Regions from separate parts of the Homo sapiens genome. Here region 1 is linked to region 2. Evidence: fine-mapped QTL for protein levels in blood plasma. Region 2 holds a variant in brackets. A gene starts in the other region. All regions are shown on their reverse strands.

Region 1 (10,506 bases), not on the chromosome of region 2:
ATCCTCAAACAGTGTCTCGTCCATTAAGATAAAATGAAGTATTTTAAAGAATACATTTAAGGGCTTTGCTTAGAAACAATTGCTTAGACTAAAAGCTCATGTTATAACAAAGTCCCCATGCTTTAGTCAGTCAAAGCATTCAATAAATACCCAAATGTTAGGCACTGAAAAATAGAGACAGAGATGGCTTCATCAGGTTACAGCTATTTGTTCAAATTGGGAACACATAGAGTGTCATAATGTAATTAGGAACAGGACAAAACAGGAATAGAAGCTGCATGTTTCAAATGTAATTTCTTCCACCAAGTTATGAAGCCATGAAATTATTTCCTCTAGCAATAGATGAAGTAACACATATATAATCAAAATTCTAACTTTTATATTATCATGGTATAAACAGTATCTAATAGTAATGGATTCAAGTTTGGAACAATTTCAAAAGTATCAAGAAAAATCATGCAAAAATTATACCATTCATTTAAATGAATATAAAGCAGAACTCTTTGAAGCCTCAAGTGAACATGTACTTCATGGACAAAACTGCACCTAGTTTTATGTGCATAATTTATATGTATTCATCAAGTATCTGATTCTCATTGCTGTGATGGACATCTGGTTTTGTCATAAACTTACAAATGGACAAATAGTGAATGGAAAATAAGGCAAAATTACTTTCTTGGAGTCCTAAAGTGTTTTGCAATGTAATAAAAAACAAAAAATTATATTGCCTAAGAAATAAAACTGAATTTCATGAAGAACAAAGGCAGTCACTTTACATAGGAGCTTACCTTGAACAGCAGTCTACAAACAAACTAGAAGCTAAAAATGGCCTTGTGAGTTCAGGGCTGGTAAGCATTGAAATGTCTGGCCAACTCTAGTTCACATTGTGATATATAGTTCTATTGGGTACAGACTGTCAAAGTGAGTTAGTGTCAATGAAAGAAAATGGGAGATGGACTTTCAGATGTTCTCATTCAGCTGAAAAGAAAAAATACAGTTCAAAGAGCTTTTCCTCACTGAGCTTTTCAAATAACCACTCAGTAGGAAGGACATACTGCTTGGAAGGGAGGGCTTATAGGAATACTCAGAGAACTTGATAGCTACCATCGTTTTCAAAAGTGAATCCAGGCGTTTGCTCCTGTCCTTTCACCTCAAAAAGAGTAAACAAGTGCTAAAGATAATACAATCACCCCTTTCACATTGTCACTTGACTGGTGATGTGAATTTAAATAGCTGCTTTTAAGCAGTTTCATCCAACCAACTATGCATTAACCAATTCACGATCTCCAGCTTCTTTTAATACACACCAGCCCACGATGGCCATAGCCTGCAGCCTTCTGCAGATATTAGGTCAGGAATAGCACCACAAGTCGCCCTTAAAGTTGACAGCAGAGGCATTCAAGATAATCTAGGTGGGATATTTGTAACTTTTTTTCCTCTACACATACCACCAAATCTAGACTTAATGTGGTAAAATGCAAATGTAAAATTTAGACTAAAATTTTCTGAAGTTCAACTTTCATACAAACTATACTTGTATATATTATGTATTGACAACTCTAAGTCACCTCCCATCTGTCAAATTCAGACATTCATACAATACGTGGCATTCAATATTTTGAGCAAACTCATTTTGCATGGTCTTCTGACCAATGACTTCCTTTCGGAACGTCACCTTCTTTGTCAATAAAGCAGAGTCTGCGTCATTATTTGGATGATTTTCTTGTTCATTGGGTTTTATAAAGCATTTGTTCCTATACCATCGTAAAGATAGAATGGAAAAGAAAGATAGAAGTACCGATGCTTATAATAAGAAGGACAGCCACAAAAACAACAAGGACAGATAAGATTAAGCTGATCTCAGCCAGGTTCGGTGGCTTAAGCCTGTAATACTGGTCGTTCAAGAGGCCGAGGCAGGTGAATCATTTGAGGTCAGGAGTTTGAGATCAGCCTGGCCAACATAGTGAAACCTCATCTCTATTAAAAATACAAAAAAAAATTAGCCCTGTGGTAGTGGCACATACCTGTAATCCCAGCCACTCAGAAGGATGAGGCAGGAGGATCGTTTGAGCCTGGGAGGTGGAGGTTGCAGTGAGCCGAGATCGTGCCACTGCAATCCCATCTGGGTGAAAGAGTGAAACCCTGTCTCATAAATATATATATATTTATTTATATTTCTTTATATAATATACATTGTATTATATATTATTATATTCAATATATTGTATATATTATATTTAATATTATATATTAAATATATATTATGTGTGTGTGTATATATTATATATATATATTTTAAGCTGGTCTCCTGCCTCCATAAATCCATTCATCAGGCCTCCAGTTAGAGTCTAACTGTGAACACAGAATCAAAATGTAAGACTTGTATGGAATGTTAGAAGTATGCCTTCTAAAGTTTTACCTTAAAACTTCCGGGTATAATTACAGACTTTATTTACATTTCTTTCCCCCCTTTAATTGGTCTGAAGTACAGATGTGAGTTAATTCAACCTCTTGATTTCTAATACATTATTAATAAAGTCTATATTGACCCCCTCTTTTGTTTTATTCATTTTTTTCCTCTTCAACTCAGAGATGCCTTTCTGGGTGTTGATGAGAGACTACGGCTATAAGACCAGCTATTTACTGCTTGGAATGAATCCCAGGTCAAATAAAAAAAAAAGGTCCAAATGAATATAAATGTTATGACTAAGAGCATATGAGTTCTTAAGATATAAAACTACTGAATATCTGTAGTGTAAGAGAAAATGTCCTTGATTGGTTCCAAACAGAAGGGTAATAAAATACGGAATGTAGAAGAGGCATTTGAGACTTAGGTTCAACACAAATGCACTAGTAAGACTTAATCAGATATTGAGCACAGAGTCAAATATTCACTCTCAAAATTGGGCAATTATCAAATTTGGGGAAGCTAAGGGAGTAGATAAATATCAGAAAAATTGATCTGTGTTTTTAGGATCATGGAATTCTTCAGATGGGAATATCTGAATAAACCACTCACTCAATGCTTGCTGTCAGAATTGTTCTATTAAAAGTCTCCAGCATAAAAACATTTTTAAAAGGCCATCTTCTCTGCCCAACCTACATTCTGCCTCCTCCTTCTCCCACCATTCACTTTTCACAATGGACATTGAAATATGACCTCCGAAATCTGAACCAGAAGCAAACAAAAAGGAAACTAGTCATTCAGAGTGAAAACGTGTCAAAAGAGAAGGTTTGAGTCAAATCCAGGTGGCGATGTTCCATGAAATACTAACAGAACTCTTCATTTTCATGAGAGAGCAAGAACAGGCAGTGTTTATAATGACGCATTAACATCTGTCTGCGAATATCATCTCCATGGCACCAAAGTACACCACCCAAACAAAGGAAACTCACAGTAAAGGCAAAACTGTACCTTTTTGTTTTAAAATAGGGAATTAGTATTTGAACTGACAAAGAATCATCATATACCATTGACAGGTTCAACTAAAGTATACTATTACCATAAAGTGTCTTTTCATACTAGATTAGACATAATTAAAGCAGACACAATGGAAGTTTTAGTATGAAAAATGTCTCACAGTCCACCACAGTTGGTGGCAGTAGAGTACAAGTGGAATAAGTACTGCCTTTGACACTGTATTTACCTATATTTAATATCAGATTTATCATTCATTAGCTTTGTGTCCCTGAGCAAGTTTTAATTTCTCTCGGCTTCAGTTAAATTGAGGAGAGTAATACACTGTTCACTGTAGGAATTAAATGAGGTAATAGACATAGACCCCTTGCAAATTACTTACCTATTAATGTCTGTACAATAAGTGTCAGCATTCTTTCTGCTTTCCTTACAAAATCGTCTCCATTATTCTGATCTAACTTCATAATTCCACATTCATTGTGAAAGCAGTTTTTTGAGGCTATAAAAATGAAATGGCTTTCTATTTTTTCAGTCACTACTCTCAGCCCATATCACTTGAATTCCCTTTCCCATCCTTGAATGTCATCTTGGGCAGATATTAGAACTTTCTGAATATCTTTCTGTTTAGAATTAACAAATTAGAATTCAGTCTTGTGCATATTAAAATTCCAGTCTCATATCTAATTCAAAGCTTTCCCTTCTGCCATCTCTGGCTATGCTTGTGAAGTGAGCGAAGAAAAGGGACATGTTTTGCTTTTTCCCTATCTCCTCCATGCCCTTGACAGCTTTGAGCCCTGGATAATAGTGAGCAGGAGGCTGGATTGTGGGGAGCAGGAAGATATCACTGTTTAACAGGACTCAGCTGCAGGGCTCCCAGGCCGGGTCATTGTTGCCCCTCCAGCTCTCACTGACTGGCCGTCCAGCCTTCTTCCAGGCAGACCCCCGTGCTGACCCTGTCCTTGAGCACATGTGTGTGGTCCATGGGACGCCCTCCTTGGGCTCCTGGGGCACAGTTCTCTGAGATGAGAAACCTGGGTCTAGTCCAGTCTCCAGCCCTAGACCCTCATAGTCCACCCTGAGCCCACTGCTACTGGCTTCCCCTCATGCAGTGGAAACTCCCTCTGGAGGGTTCCACTTGACTCATGAGAAACACACTTCCTTTCCATGCCAGAGTTGTGGGTGCCCCCTGCCTTATTCCTCTCCCCTCTCTCCATCTCGCCTTTTCCCCTGTTCAGGAGGGCATAAGGAGAAAAGCAGCAGTGTGGCCTAACCAGGCATCTAAATGCAAATCAGAATACCAGGCTTCCCTTTTTTCCGTTTTTTGCAGATAATCCCACCATCTTTCATTCCCTTCTCATGAATCTTCCCTGCTGCCAGTAAACCTGAGCATTGAGAAGGGAGTGCCTCTTCCTTAGATGAGGATGAGGGACTCAATACTCTCCACTAACACTGTAATTCCCAGACGACTGGCCAATTTTTCTTCCCCTCCTGGGGCACCCCCTAGTATAGTCTTGGAGGGGTTCCTCTTTTCATGGGGCTGACTCTGCAGGTGTCTGGTTGGAATGGTTCATGGTTGTCTTTACAATGTAGGGTAGGTCCTCTTGCCAGTTTTCAGGCGTGAATTCAGGCTAACAGTTTTAGGGTAAAGGGAAAAATTTTCATCAGTGCTGAGTTGCAAATGGGAAACAAAAGCCTGAGAAACAATAGAATTGAATAAATGGCAAGAAGCACAAACATTAGGTGTACGCAGATTCTGCTTTTTCCTCTGTGATGTGGTCACAAACTTACTCCAACTACAACTTTGTAACTAACGTCGTCTTCACAGCTCCCACACAAGGCAGTAGAAAGACTTCAGTCTGTTATTTCTGCTCTCCAGCTCTCCACCATGTTCCTCTCTAGACAGTGTTTGATGTGTGAGTGCAAGGACATGTATGGAATTGTGAGGGGGCACAGGGAATAGACCCTCAGGTCTGTCCTGTGTCCTTGAGGTCCATGCCAATCCTGGCTCTACATCTGATATTTCTTGGGGAGTATACAGCCCGGTTTCTTCTCTGGATGTTCTGATTAGCATCTGTGGCTGAATCAGCAGTTGACTAATGCCCAGCACTCAGCTCATTGAGGGCCAGCCACTTCTCCCTGCAGATCCACACTTTGCTTGGCTTGTGCAAGGCTAGACACACATTCTCTGTCAGGTACCTCACCCCGATAGCCTGTGAGGCATGTAATTCTACTCTCTTAACGATGCAGTCTTCCCTGTCCTCTGTGGAATTGTTTGTGTGTTTTTCTATCAATTATCTATACTGATAAGTTTCCTTTGGAAATTTCCAATAACTATTGGGTTAAGAGAGTGATCTATTAAATATTTAGTTCCCTGAGATGGTTCAGGACCGTCATCACCTCAAATGTACTTGATAGAAGAAAGAAGCCATTATTGTTTACTTTGTCATTTTGAATAGGCATTTTGTTACATTATTTGTTGCTTCAACTTTTTAAAATTTTAATTTTAATTTCAATGGTGTTTGGAGTACAGGTTACATGGATAAGTTCTAAGATTTTGGTGCACCTGTCACCTAAACAATGTACACTGTACCCAATGTGTAGTATTTTATCCCTCACCCCCCTCCCACCCTTCCCGCCGAGTCCCCAAAGTCCACTGTATCATTCTTCCGCTTTGCATCCTCATAGCTTAGCTCCCACTTATAAGTGAGAACATACAATATTTGGTTTTCCAATCCTGAGTTACCTCACTTAGAATAATGGCCTCCAGTCCATCCAAGTTGCTACAAAAGACATTATTTCGTTCCTTTTTATGGCTGACTAGTATTCCACAGTGTATATATACCACATTTTCTTTATCCACTCATTGGTTGATGGGCATTTAGGTTGGTTCCATATCTTTGCAATTGCAAATTGTGCTGCTATAAACATGTGTGTGCATGTGTGTTTTTCATATTATGACTTATTTTCCTTTGGGTAGGTACTCAGTAGTGAGACTGCTGGATCAAATGGTAGTTTACTTTCAGCTTTTTAAGAAATCTCCAGCTGGGCACAGTGGCTCACACCTGTAACCCCAGCACTTTGGGAGGCTGAGGCGGGTGGATCACGAGGTCAAGAGATTGAGACCATCCTGGCCAACATGATGAAACCTCATCTCTACTAAAAATACAAAAATTAGCTGGGCATGGTGGTGTGCACCTGTAGTCCCAGCTACTTGAGAGGCTGAGGCAGAAGAATCACTTGAACCCGGGAGGCAGAGGTTGCAGTGAGCCGAGATCATACCACTGCACTCCAGCCTGAGCAAGAGAGATACTCCATCTCAAAACAAAACAAAACAAACAAACAAACAAACAAAAAAAAGGTAAAAAAAAAAAAAACAAAGAAACAAAATAATTCCGTAGCAAAGTCACTGAAACATGAAGTAGCATGATTAAAAATGGAAGAAAACCCAGAAGGTGCATAACGGGATAAAAACAACAGTAAATATTGATTTGTGTATCATAAAGGTTAAGAGGTATTTGTGAAAATGGTTAGCTCTGGAGTATTTTCACACATAAAGAAATGACTGCATTTGTTACTGGGCTTATAACATTCAACATGAGGCTGTGGTAGCGGGCCTCCAAGATGGCACCTGATGACCCCACCTTATGTCAGCTCCACCTCCCACATCTTACCAGACTGGCTCTGTGTAACCAATGGCAGAAGAGATGATATGTTTCAAGATAAGGTTATAAAAAGACACTGCTGCTCCCACCTCAGTCATTCCCTGGTCCACTGTCTCAATTTCTCTATTCACTCATTCTGCAGGAACAAAGAGCTGGCAGGAAAAGCCCAGCCTTCTGATAAGGTTCTGAGGATTTTGTCCAAAGGCCTAAGAGGAGCTGAGGACTCTTGCTAACAGCCACATGAGCTTGAAATTGAATCCTTTAAACTTGGGAAACCTTCAGAAGATTGCAGCCATATGCAACAGCTTGTCTGCGTCCTCATGAGACACTCTGAGCTGGAACCACCCAGATAAGCTGCTCCCTCCTGGTCCACAGAAACTGTTTAAGATAAGAAAAATTCGTATTTTTAAGATGCTAAGTTTGAGGGTTATATTTTACATGGCAATAGATATCTAATACAGAGTTGAGGGAAGTTCCATGTGCTATTTTGCAAATTTGATGAAAAAAACACATCTCTACATATACATGTAATTTGTAGTGTTTATTCTAAGAATTAGCAGATACTTGCCACCTTCACTTTTCAAGCCACTTTTCAAAAACTTTGTTTTACTACTTAATAGATGATTCTGATCTCCCTTTTAACTGACCCAAAATTCTTCACAATCTGTGCGCTTCTTACTTATCTCATATTCTACTCTCCCCCATCCTTTTTTTTTTCCTTTACTCCATCCATGCTGACGTCTTTTATGTTTCTGGAACGTGCCAAGCAAACTTCCATCTCAAGGCCTTTGTGTTGACAGTTCTTTCTGTCTTAGCTTCTCTTTCCCTGGATATCTGAATATCCATGTGGCTCACTTTCTTCTCCTTCAAATCTTTGCTCAAAACTCTCCTCATCAGTGAGGACAGTATTGAACAGCTTATTTAAAATAGCAGTACCACCCCTCACACTGATGATGCTCCTTATCTGGATTTATTGTCCTTTAACACATGTACAAGTTGAGCATCTCTAATCCAAACACCCAAAATACTCCAAAATCTAAAACTTATTGAGTACTGACATCATGCCACACCTAGAAAATTTCACACCTGACTTCATGTGGTGGGTCATAGTCAAAATGCATTCAAAGCCTTGTTTTATGCATAAAATTACCTAAAATAGTCAGTAAGATTACCTTCAGTCAGTAGCATAAGTGAAACACAAATGAATTTTGTGTTTAGACTTGGGTCTCATCCCCAAGAGATCTCATTATGTATATGCAAATATTCCAAAATCTGGGGGGAAAAAATCTGAAATCTGAAACACTTCCAGACCCAGGCATTGTGGATAAGGGATCCTCAACCTGTAGTAATTTTATTGCGTCTCTCCCCCTCACTGAAATACCAGCTTCAACAGGGTGGGGCTTTTCATCTCTTCAGTCACTTATGCACTTCCATCCATGATGTGTCCTGATGACCTAGAACAATGCCTGACACTTAGGAAGTACTCAATAAAATATTTGTTGATGTAAATCAATTGAAATATCAGTCCCATAGGGATGGGGATTTTCATCCCTTTAGTCACTTATCCACTTACTTGATATATCCTCATTACCTAGAAGAATGCCTGACACTTAGCAGGTACTCAATAAATACTTGATGTGAGCTCCTGAAATGAGTTTAGTTCAAGGGGCTTTTTTACAATACCAATTATCCTAAAGTAAAGATGACTGCCTATATTTAAATTTCCTGACTCCGTAGGTTGTCAATAAACAGGGACTATGATCTGAAAGCAAAGTTCAGTTTAAAAAGAAAAGTATGTGCTTGTATGAGTCACAAAAAAGGGCTAAGTACAAAAGAACTGCTGAGGTAAACATGAACATCGTTCTGTGAACTTATGATTTAAATAAAATCTTTATCACCACACTTGCCAAGAGCAATATATCTTATCATGAACGTACATAAAAAACTCTTGTGTCTTTCCTCTTAATACTCGGAACATTATTTTTATTTTTATTACGAAGTTTGCATTGGAGAATATTGTAACTCACTGCACCTAGGTAAAAACTAAAGACATAAATCTGATGTTAGTTCTAAAAATCTACAAGGGTAATGATATGAATTTCACAGACATGGAAGCCTTGTTCAGAATAGATGATAATAGAAAGGCTCGGTAGAGCCAGGTTCATGAGTGTGTGACCTGTGCAGAAGTGGGTGCTTAGAAGGCCCATGGCTTGGGTTAATGCTCTGCTGTTGCCGTCTTGAAATTCTTCACAATTTATGAACAAGGGAACTTCATTTTCAGTTTACACGGAACCCTGCAAATTATGTACTTGGCTCTATCTTCCTTTGCAAACGGAGAAACAGGCTTCAAGAGTTTTGAAACTGCCATAATAGATCCAAAAACTGTGTATGCTTTTCACATCTGTACAATTTTGTTACGTATTTATAAACATCTGCTGAATGGATGACTCTATGTATTGGCCCACATCACTTCAGAACTAGGTCTTGAACTTAGGGATTGTGGCAAGAAGGAAAAAGGCAGCTTCCGGTGGCTCACAGGGCAGGCCAGGTGGCTCACACCTGTGAGCATTTTGGGAGGCCAAGGCGGGTGGATCACTAGAGTCCAGGAGTTCGAGACCGGCCTGGGCAATATGGCAAGATCCTATCTCTACTAAAAATACAAAAATAGCCTGGGGTGGTGGCACGCGCCTGTAGTCCCAGGTACTCCGGAGGCTGAGGCAGGAGGCACTTGAACCTGAAGGTCGAGGCTGCAGTGAGACCTGATCTCAACACACACAAAAGAATGACTCTCAGGCTTCTTTTTTTCTAATGGATGGAAGTGAAACCTCGAAAGCACATGGTCAAGTGCCTGACTCTTCCAAAACAAAAACAAAAACAAAAAAACTAGCCTCAGCAAGGAGGTCCGTAGCCTCCAGCTGACCGGATTTTCAGTCACAGAACACCGGGGACCTAAAAAAGGGTCAATCTCAGCATCGTGCACTCAACCCAGCTCCTTCCGCCCCTCGAGCCCAGGCTGGGAGGAGCCGAGGAACCGAAAGAGAAAACAGGCCGCGCGGGCGGCAGAGGAGCCGGGCGCCGCAATGGACGTGCGGGCGCTGCCGTGGCTGCCGTGGCTGCTGTGGCTGCTGTGCCGGGGCGGCGGCGATGCGGACTCCCGCGCCCCCTTCACCCCGACCTGGCCGCGGAGCCGCGAGCGTGAAGCCGCCGCCTTCCGGGTACCGAGCGCGCGCCTCCCCGGGATCTGTCCCTGCTCCCTCACTTCCTGTCCCGGGTCTGGGCTGCGGAAGAGGGCCCCCGAGAGCTGACCCTGCTCGTGGGCACCCGTGGCTCTGCGATGCGTCTGGGGCCCTGAGCTGCGGGTGCAAAAGCCAGCTTCTCTCTCCCCTCTCCTTGTGCCATGGTGTCACTCCCCCATGCCTTTGCTAA
Region 2 (8,000 bases):
CAATCGTGACAGAAGGGGAAGCAAACACATTCTTTTTCAGCAAGGAGAAGTGCGGAGCAAAAGGGGAAAAAGCCCCTTATAAAACCATCAGATCTCGTGAGAACTCACTCATGACCACGAGAACAGCATAAGGGTAACCGCCCCCATGATTCAATTGCCTCCCACCAGGTCCCTCCCACAACACATGGGGATTATGGGAACTACAAGCTGAGATTTGGGTGGAGACACAGCCAAATCATATTAATCAGTAATTGCTCAAGACTCATGCTGAATATAAGATAGTAATAGCCTTTCCAATCACACCAAAATGCTGAAAAGCCAAAGGATTTTTTAACTCTATTTTATTAAAAAACTAGCTATGGCATGAAAGGCAGCTCCACTTCTGCTTTTACCTCTTAGAGCTACAGTTCAGATCTGAACTCGCAAGACAGAGCTGTGCAATGAGTCAGCTATCAGATTCGAAATCACACAAAATTCACTACACCAAGCATTAACACTCATTGTTCAAACCTCTGGCAAAGCAGATAGTGAGTTATTGCTAATGCATCAATCAGTATACTTGGGACAAAATAGGTGGTTTCCCGGTTCTGTGAAAACAATTATTCTCAAATGTCTACTCTTCCCTTCCCTGGGGAGAATGTTTTGTCCATTTTGTAAAATGGGGATCATCTCCTCAGCAGGAGTAAAAACAGAAAAGGAAGAAAGTGACTTAAAATGTCCTTGCAAAATGCAAAAAATAAAGACCTGGCCAGTGGCTCGTGCCTGTATCCCAGCACTTTGGGAGGCGAAGGCCAGAGGATCACTTGAAGCCAGCAGTTTCAGGCCAGCCTGGGCAACATACCAAGATCCCATCTCTACAAAAATAAAATTTTTTTATTTTCAATGCAAAAACTGTTATTTAACTCAACAGTATTGCTAAAAGGAGGGGCAATAAGTTAAATCAGAATTGCTTAGGCTAGGCCCATCCAGGAGTTGTGGAGGCCCTGGGGGTAAGACCACCATATATATCTACATAACTGTGTTATTCACCCTATGCAGTACTCCCTTGACGACAGAAGCACTCCCTCACAGAAGGAGCCGTCCACCTCCCAGAGCTTCCTTCCACAGTGCACCAAGGCAATGACTCAGCACAAAACCAACCACCAGGCCCCCCCACGTGCCCTCCTCCCCAACCCTGAACTAGTTTCAGCAATGGAGGAGAAAGAGCAGCCCTGGTGGGGTCACTGGAAGACGAGGCGCCAAGAACTCCTAGGTCTGGGAACCCATCAAACCCCCCTGCCAAGAAACCAAACCGCACACATAGGCCTTCAAAAGCATGGAGACTTGGAAGGTCTGATAGCCACTAAGCAGCTACAGACCTGAAGAGCAGGCTGGGGTACTCAGGTGCCCAATCTTAGGGTGATACCCTCGGGGTATGACTCCTCAGCTCAGCTTTTTCAGCAGGAACATGTTAAGAGGTGTCTCCTAGAGTCAAGATGACTCAAGGACATGAGAAAATAACCCAAGTATTACTGGGCACAGAGAAAAATCATCAATAAAGGCTTGTTTCCTTTGCCCTTCGTTAACCTTTATTCATGTGTTTCACAAGTATTTCTTAAGTACTTACTGCGGGAGGCACAGGAGAGTACAGCAATGAACAAAACAAAGACGCCCTGCCCTCTCGGAGTGTATATTCCAGGTTGCAGGATACAAGATAAACAAGTAAACAAAGACTTGGCTACTACTCAGGAAAAATGCTAATCTCTTATTCAGGAGCCATGACTAGTTTCTCCAGGATAACAGAGACAAACTTCAAGTAGCGGCAGTGGCATCATTAAACTATTTCACAATCCTAAGTATATGATATTGGTGCATGAGGGTGTCATTTAAAATGAGTTAACTGGTAGGAATCAACGCTAAAGAGATCCACACGTACCTAAAATGCTATGCTTTTCTTTTTTTTTTTTTTTTTTTTTTTTGAGACGGAGTCTCACTCTGTCGCCCAGGCTGGAGTGCAGTGGCGCAATCTCCGCTCATTGCAAGCTCCACCTCCCGGGTTCACGCCATTCTCCTGCCTCAGCCTCCCGTAGCTGGCACTACAGGCACCCACCACCACACCCAGCTAATGTTTTGTATTTTTAGTAGAGATAGGGTTTCACCATGTTAGCCAGGATGGTCTTAATCTCCTGATCTCGTGATCCGCCTGCCTCAGCTTCCCAAAGTGCTGGGATTACAGGCGTGAGCCACCGCGCCCGGCCTGCTATGCTTTTCTTAAAAGAAATCCACCATTCTTGCAAAGGGGATATCTAAATAAGGTAAAGAGTGTGTTTGCTTGGGGAGCAGAATCAAGATTTAAAAAAGAATAAAATGAGGGATATTGTCCTGATAATCTGGAAATCAGGGTTGCTAGAAAGAAAAGTGTTGCTCTATTCAATTATATTATTTTCTCTACTTGGATTTCATACTTGTTTTGTCAAGATTTATCAAATGTAAGTGGTTATGGGAGTAGGAAAGGAGGAGCCTATTAAAATACTTGAAACACTGACTTTTTTCAGGGGGGTGATTTAACCACTCAGCACAAGGCAGCCCTCCTCCAGGCCTGGCAACCTCAATGCCATTCAAACCCATCAGCAGCACTTGAGGCGAAGGCACCAATATCTCAGAGTTCTTAGTCACAGCTTTAAAATGAAGAATGGTCACAGCAGGTTTCTAAACTTCACTCCAAAGACACCTGCAAGCTGTCAGTACTTAAAACATTCTGATGTTTCAACGGACATTATGTCTCCTTTAAAACAAACTAATGGCAGGGCGTGGTGCCTCATGCCTGTAATCCCAGCACTTTGGGAGGCTGAGGCATGCAGATCACGAGGTCAGGAGATCAAGATCAGCCTGACCAGTATGGTGAAACTCCGTCTCTACTAAAAATACAAAAATTAGCCGGGCGTGGTGGTGCACGCCTATAGTCCCAGCTACTAGGGAGGCTGAGGCAGGAGTATCGCTTGAACCTGGGAGGTAGAGGTTGCAGTGAGCTGAGATTGTGCCACTGCACTCCAGCCTGGGCAACACAGCGAGACTCTGTCTCAAAAAGAAAAAACGAATATGCCTAGCCCCTAGTATCAACAGGAGCTCAGAAACAGTCATGTGGTTTAAATAATCTCTCTGAAAATTTATGAAGAATATTCCAAAAACTATTATGTACTCTGGTATGCACCCTGGTTAAACTATCACTAGATATGTTTCCACTAAAGTAAATATTTTTTAAAGACTATTTCATAATAAACTTGAAAATCGTATAAATAACTGACAACAAGTTTTAAGAAATCACATGTTTGAAACTAAAGGATTCTAAATTTCTTTTCAGATTAAAGGCCAAGCCCCTAGAATGGCCTAAGCTAAAATCATTCTTAAAATTAACTTGATATTAAAGTTTAAAAGCACCATGATCACATTATAGAACTAGAAAATGGTTTCAGAAGCAATAAAATTATTACAGACTAAATAAAATGTAATGATATCTTTGAGGAATAATAAATTTTTTGTCTGAAAGTTTGTCTGTTAGAAAATTCTCTACCTGAAGTGAACATGTACAGCCAGAATTAGGAAACTATTCCAAACAGTATGGTTCATTTAACAGCCAAGCAAATGAAACCATTCAGCTGAGATTCCCAGAAAAAGCCTACATTCTAGACTAAGTTATCTGAGCTTACACAAGTAAAGACTTAAGAAAAAAGCCAACAGAAAAAAAAAAAA[AG/G]AGATCAATATATTCAATCAAAGAGAAAACTAAGCTGTAACAGTAAGATGTTAAATGTTAGCAACAAACAAGCTTCTGGAAGAAAGTATCTGCAAGCTGTGTGGAAACACCGTCTTCACTCAAACACACACAAAAGAATGTGTTGAATACATTTTCTGAAAGAAAGAACTTCAGGCCATGCGCAGTGGCACATGCCTGTAATCACAGCACTTTGGGAGGCCAAGGTGGGAGGATCACTTGAGGTCAGGAGTTCGAGACCAGCCTGGCCAACATGGTGAAACCCTGAATCTACTTAAAAAAAAAAAAAAAACACACACACACACACACACACACACACAAAAATTAGCCAGGCATGGTCGCGCACGCTTATAGTCCCAACTACTCGGGAGGCTGAGGCACGAGAATAGCTTGAATCCAGGAGGTGGAGGTTGCAGTGAGCCGAGATCGCACCACTGCACTCCAGACTGGGTGACAGAGTGAGACTCCATCTCAAAAAAAAAAAAAAAAAGTTCTGCAGCAGGATAGGTAAGAAAGCCCAGTGAGCATTTTCCTGAAACTCTGTCAAGTCTTCTAAAAGTCACTGACTCTATGCTGTATTCCATCTCAACTGAAGGAAACCAGCGGGACACAGGAGAGGAGCGGGGAGAACTGCAAAGGCCCCCACAGAAGCGGCTTGTCCACTGGAAACAACCCAGGATCCCTGTCCGTTGTCCCAGTTGTACAAAATTCAGTGACCATCCTCAAGGGAGGCAGCCTGATTTTAGTTAAAATCACTCTTCTGGATGCAAAACCATCTTTCCAAGAACGCTGGTTCTTCAAAACCATCACTCTGGGACAGAAAATGTTCTAGAAAATCAGCAAAAATAAGTAAAATCTTTGCTATTCTATGTCATTTTTCAGAGCGTAAAACAGTTAGCCAATGGTCCCTCTCTCATTCTCAAAAAATCCAAATGCACTCCAAAGGCCAGCCTGACAGCTGGAGAGACACACATGTGCTGCAGCAGCTCCTCCAGACAGTGCTCCCCGGCTGAATCCACAGCTCCAGCACTAGCTGCCATGGCACTTCATACAGCTCAGTGGTGGCATTTTCTGAAGTGTCTGTTATCCCCAATGACACCGTCACTCTGGGACAGTAATGTCTTCCCTCCTGGAGCAATGACTGGCAGATGCAGGATCAGCATCTCTACTGATGGCTTGAGAAGGAAACTGGCCAGTGGCTAAGAACGCATGACAGCACGGCTCTCACCCACACAGCTAACATGTGAGCCAAATCTCCCCACAGAACGTGATGCCATTATCCAACCCTCCCAAGTTCCTCAGCTTTGAAGCCAAATATCCCAAGGCTCAGAATGAGGAACTTGCCCAACATCACGGAATTATAAAGTGAAGAATTAACCTAGGCGGTGTGAGGCCCACGGGTGAGTCCTTAACCAATTAGGTAAACGGCTTCATTTATTTTCCATTTAAAGAAATGGTTTTAACTTTTCAGAAAACATTTAGTTTCAGTTACAACACAAAAACTGGCAAAACATTCCACAAAACTTTAGTTTAAATCTTGTCACAATAAATGCCATTAAAAGGACAGACTCTGTATGGCATAAAGATCTCTGAGTTCCTATTATATTGCCAACCATCTACACAACTTGATTCAATAAAATGCTAGTCATATAGAAAAATTACAGTTATCCCTTCGCAGCACCTTGTAATCACAGATACAAGACCCCCAGTAGAGGCCTGGAACCAGGAATACGGTTTCGGATATGGTTTTTCCTTTACATACATACCCATGATTAAGTTTAATTTATAAATTAGTTGTAAAAGATTAACAACTAATAATAAAATAGCACAATTATAACTGTAATAAAAGGTATGTGAATGTGGCATCTCTCTCTCAAAATATCTTCATATTTTCAGACTGCAAGTGACCATGGGTAACTGAAACCTCAGGAAGTGTAACTGCTGATGGGGGGACTGGTTTATAGTCACTCACTTAATGGCGATACGTCATCAGAAATGTGTCATGAGGCAATTCTGTCACTGCTCAAACATCATCGAGTGTATCTGCACACACATAGATGGTGTCGCCTACTACAAACCTAGGCTATATGGTATGTCCTATTGTTCCCAGGCTACAAACCCACACAGCATGACGCTGCACTGAATACCCCAGGCAACTGTAACATGTGACACATATCTAAACGTAGAAAAGGTGCAGCAAAGATATGGTATAAAGGATTAAAATGGCACACTTGCCTAGGGCACTTATAATGAATGGAGCCTGCAGGACTGGAAGCGGCTCTGGGTGAGTCAGTGAGTGAGTGGACCTAAAGGCCTAGGACCTGACTGGACGCTTTCATAAGACTGGTAGCGCAGTGGGTTCGTTTACAGCAGTATTACCACAAACATGTGACTAATGCATTGTGCTACGACATTACAATGGCTACAGCATCACTAGGTGATAAGAATTGTTCAGCTTCATCCTAATCTTCTAGGACCAAGGTCATTTATGCAGACTGTAGTTTATGCAGTCCGTCATTGGCCAAAACGCTTCTCTTCTCGTTTTTAATGTCATGGATACTACTTATATCGTAAAGGCAGAATTCTCAGAATGGTTGAACCCATCTGAGGACAGCCTCTATGAAAAAGCTGTGAACTGTCTGAAGATTCAGACCACATCACATCATGCTGATCAACAGATCATATGCTTTTCCTTGCTCAACTTCTTCCCCAAGCTTAAACTTCTGCTACTCTATACTCCCAGTCCAGTTCTGCTTTCTCTTCTGCACAGTGTGAATTGCCAAACACCAGAGCATTGCCTTCCACAACCTCTCTTCCCATACCCAACTGGTTTCCATGGAAATAATATCAAGTCCCTCAGCCGGCTCCTTCCCACTGGCTGCACTGTCCTTGCTATTTCTATGTAAGCAGCTTGTGAACTCTACAAACAAGGTCCACATCTATATTGTCTTCCTCAACTCAGATGCACACTCTCCTTTAATGAGACTACTCAGCTCAGCAGAGTCCAACAGTGACACAACTCAGAAACATTCTACAATCAAACCATCAGGCCCAGCAGGAAACGGGGAGCAGCAGAAGTCAAATACAAGGCAAATGACTTTAGAAGATCTCTGCTTTTAAAGCAAAGTCTGTGGCAGAAACATACCCTATTTTTTTAATTTAACAAGGGCAATTAATTTAACCATATAAACCAAGCACACAGTCGGAATCTTTCCCATAAAGAAAGCTCAGATACTGTTTTGCTCCTGACTGTAATCTCACTGCTTCTGCTGAAACTATCCTGGAGAACTGCAGTCAGTCCACGCCTGTTCAGAAGTACAGAGGTTCCATTTTAACCTCATTTGCTTGAAATTTCATAATATCCTGAAAGGTGTTGGCAGATTACCAATTAGAAGGAAGCACACAAGTAACAGACTGTCAGCTGGTTAACCCAGAGACAGGAAGGTGTTTCTACTTTCCTGCTACTGTTCCAGCAAGGGCCGCAATCGAAACCCACCCTGGTCCAGACGAAACCAATCGAGGGGCTGCAATGAAGAAGTCAATGTAGCCCCAGGCCGACACAGCTGCCTAGAGTTCAAAAAGCTTAAAACAGAGATGCAGAGCCATCTCCACTGAGTGAGTTCTAAATGTCTGTCCAAAAATGAAAAATAAAAAATTCAAAATACAATGTCATAGGGATACAGATATAGAATATCTTTAAACTGACATTGGTATCTTAATATGACACCTCTCAGAGTTTTCATATATGCCATCACTCAATGCTTGCAAAACCACAATAGCTTGCAAGATGTAATTTGGAGTTCTTTCCTTTTAAAAACAGCTAGCATCTAAAGTATGTAAAATTCTATGATCAAAATATATGGTATGCTCAATCTCTTAAAGAAAATAAATCTTAGAAAACTGGGTTCCTTCCCTTCAACACAAAACATCTCCATGAAGTATCACTCTGTCCCTTCCTCATTTATTGCCATATATCCAAACTCTTTTAAAATATATCTTAGTTTCCTCAGTCCCTGTGAATCTTGGGGTTATGCTAATGGTCATGTAACTATTAAACATTTTACTACTGGCCTGCAATTAATAAAGCAAGATAAAGGCAGGATGGGATCAGTAATAATAAAAGTAGGCACGTGTGAATCTGTAATTTGGTTTCCTTAAAAGACAGAAACCCAGTTGGTGACACATAAGTGAAATTCACATAACAAGATACATGGTCACTAGCTAGAGAAATGTTTCTCTGAGTCTACAGCAA

Alleles and levels. Positions count from the first base shown, and alleles are read on the strand shown. Strength reflects both the effect of a copy and how common the allele is.
In carriers of allele AG in region 2, the plasma level of the protein whose gene starts at base 10,142 in region 1 tends to be lower than with G alone (weak association).

What was found. PIP is the chance, under the fine-mapping model, that this variant and not a neighbour inherited with it causes the effect. The UK Biobank Pharma Proteomics Project read protein levels with antibody pairs (Olink). The fine-mapping took linkage between variants from a reference panel, not from the people measured, so its PIPs are less certain.
Region 1: CTSO starts here. The variant in region 2 is fine-mapped to the plasma level of the CTSO protein (UK Biobank, PIP above 0.99).

What each region holds. Positions count from the first base shown.
Region 1 is chr4:155,953,502-155,964,007 of GRCh38, reverse strand. CTSO (cathepsin O) reads left to right here and starts at 10,142. Exons shown (of 8, transcript NM_001334.3): 1 at 10,142-10,295. The coding sequence starts at 10,161. RefSeq lists an enhancer at 8,737-9,031.
Region 2 is chr6:159,982,471-159,990,470 of GRCh38, reverse strand. All of the region lies in intron 1 of IGF2R (insulin like growth factor 2 receptor), which reads right to left. Among named protein-coding and RNA genes, the nearest start is that of IGF2R, 17 kb to the right of the region's middle. RefSeq lists enhancers at 2,401-2,975, 7,153-7,392 and silencers at 5,680-5,974, 6,980-7,274. The variant AG/G (reference allele first, on the strand shown) is at 3,730.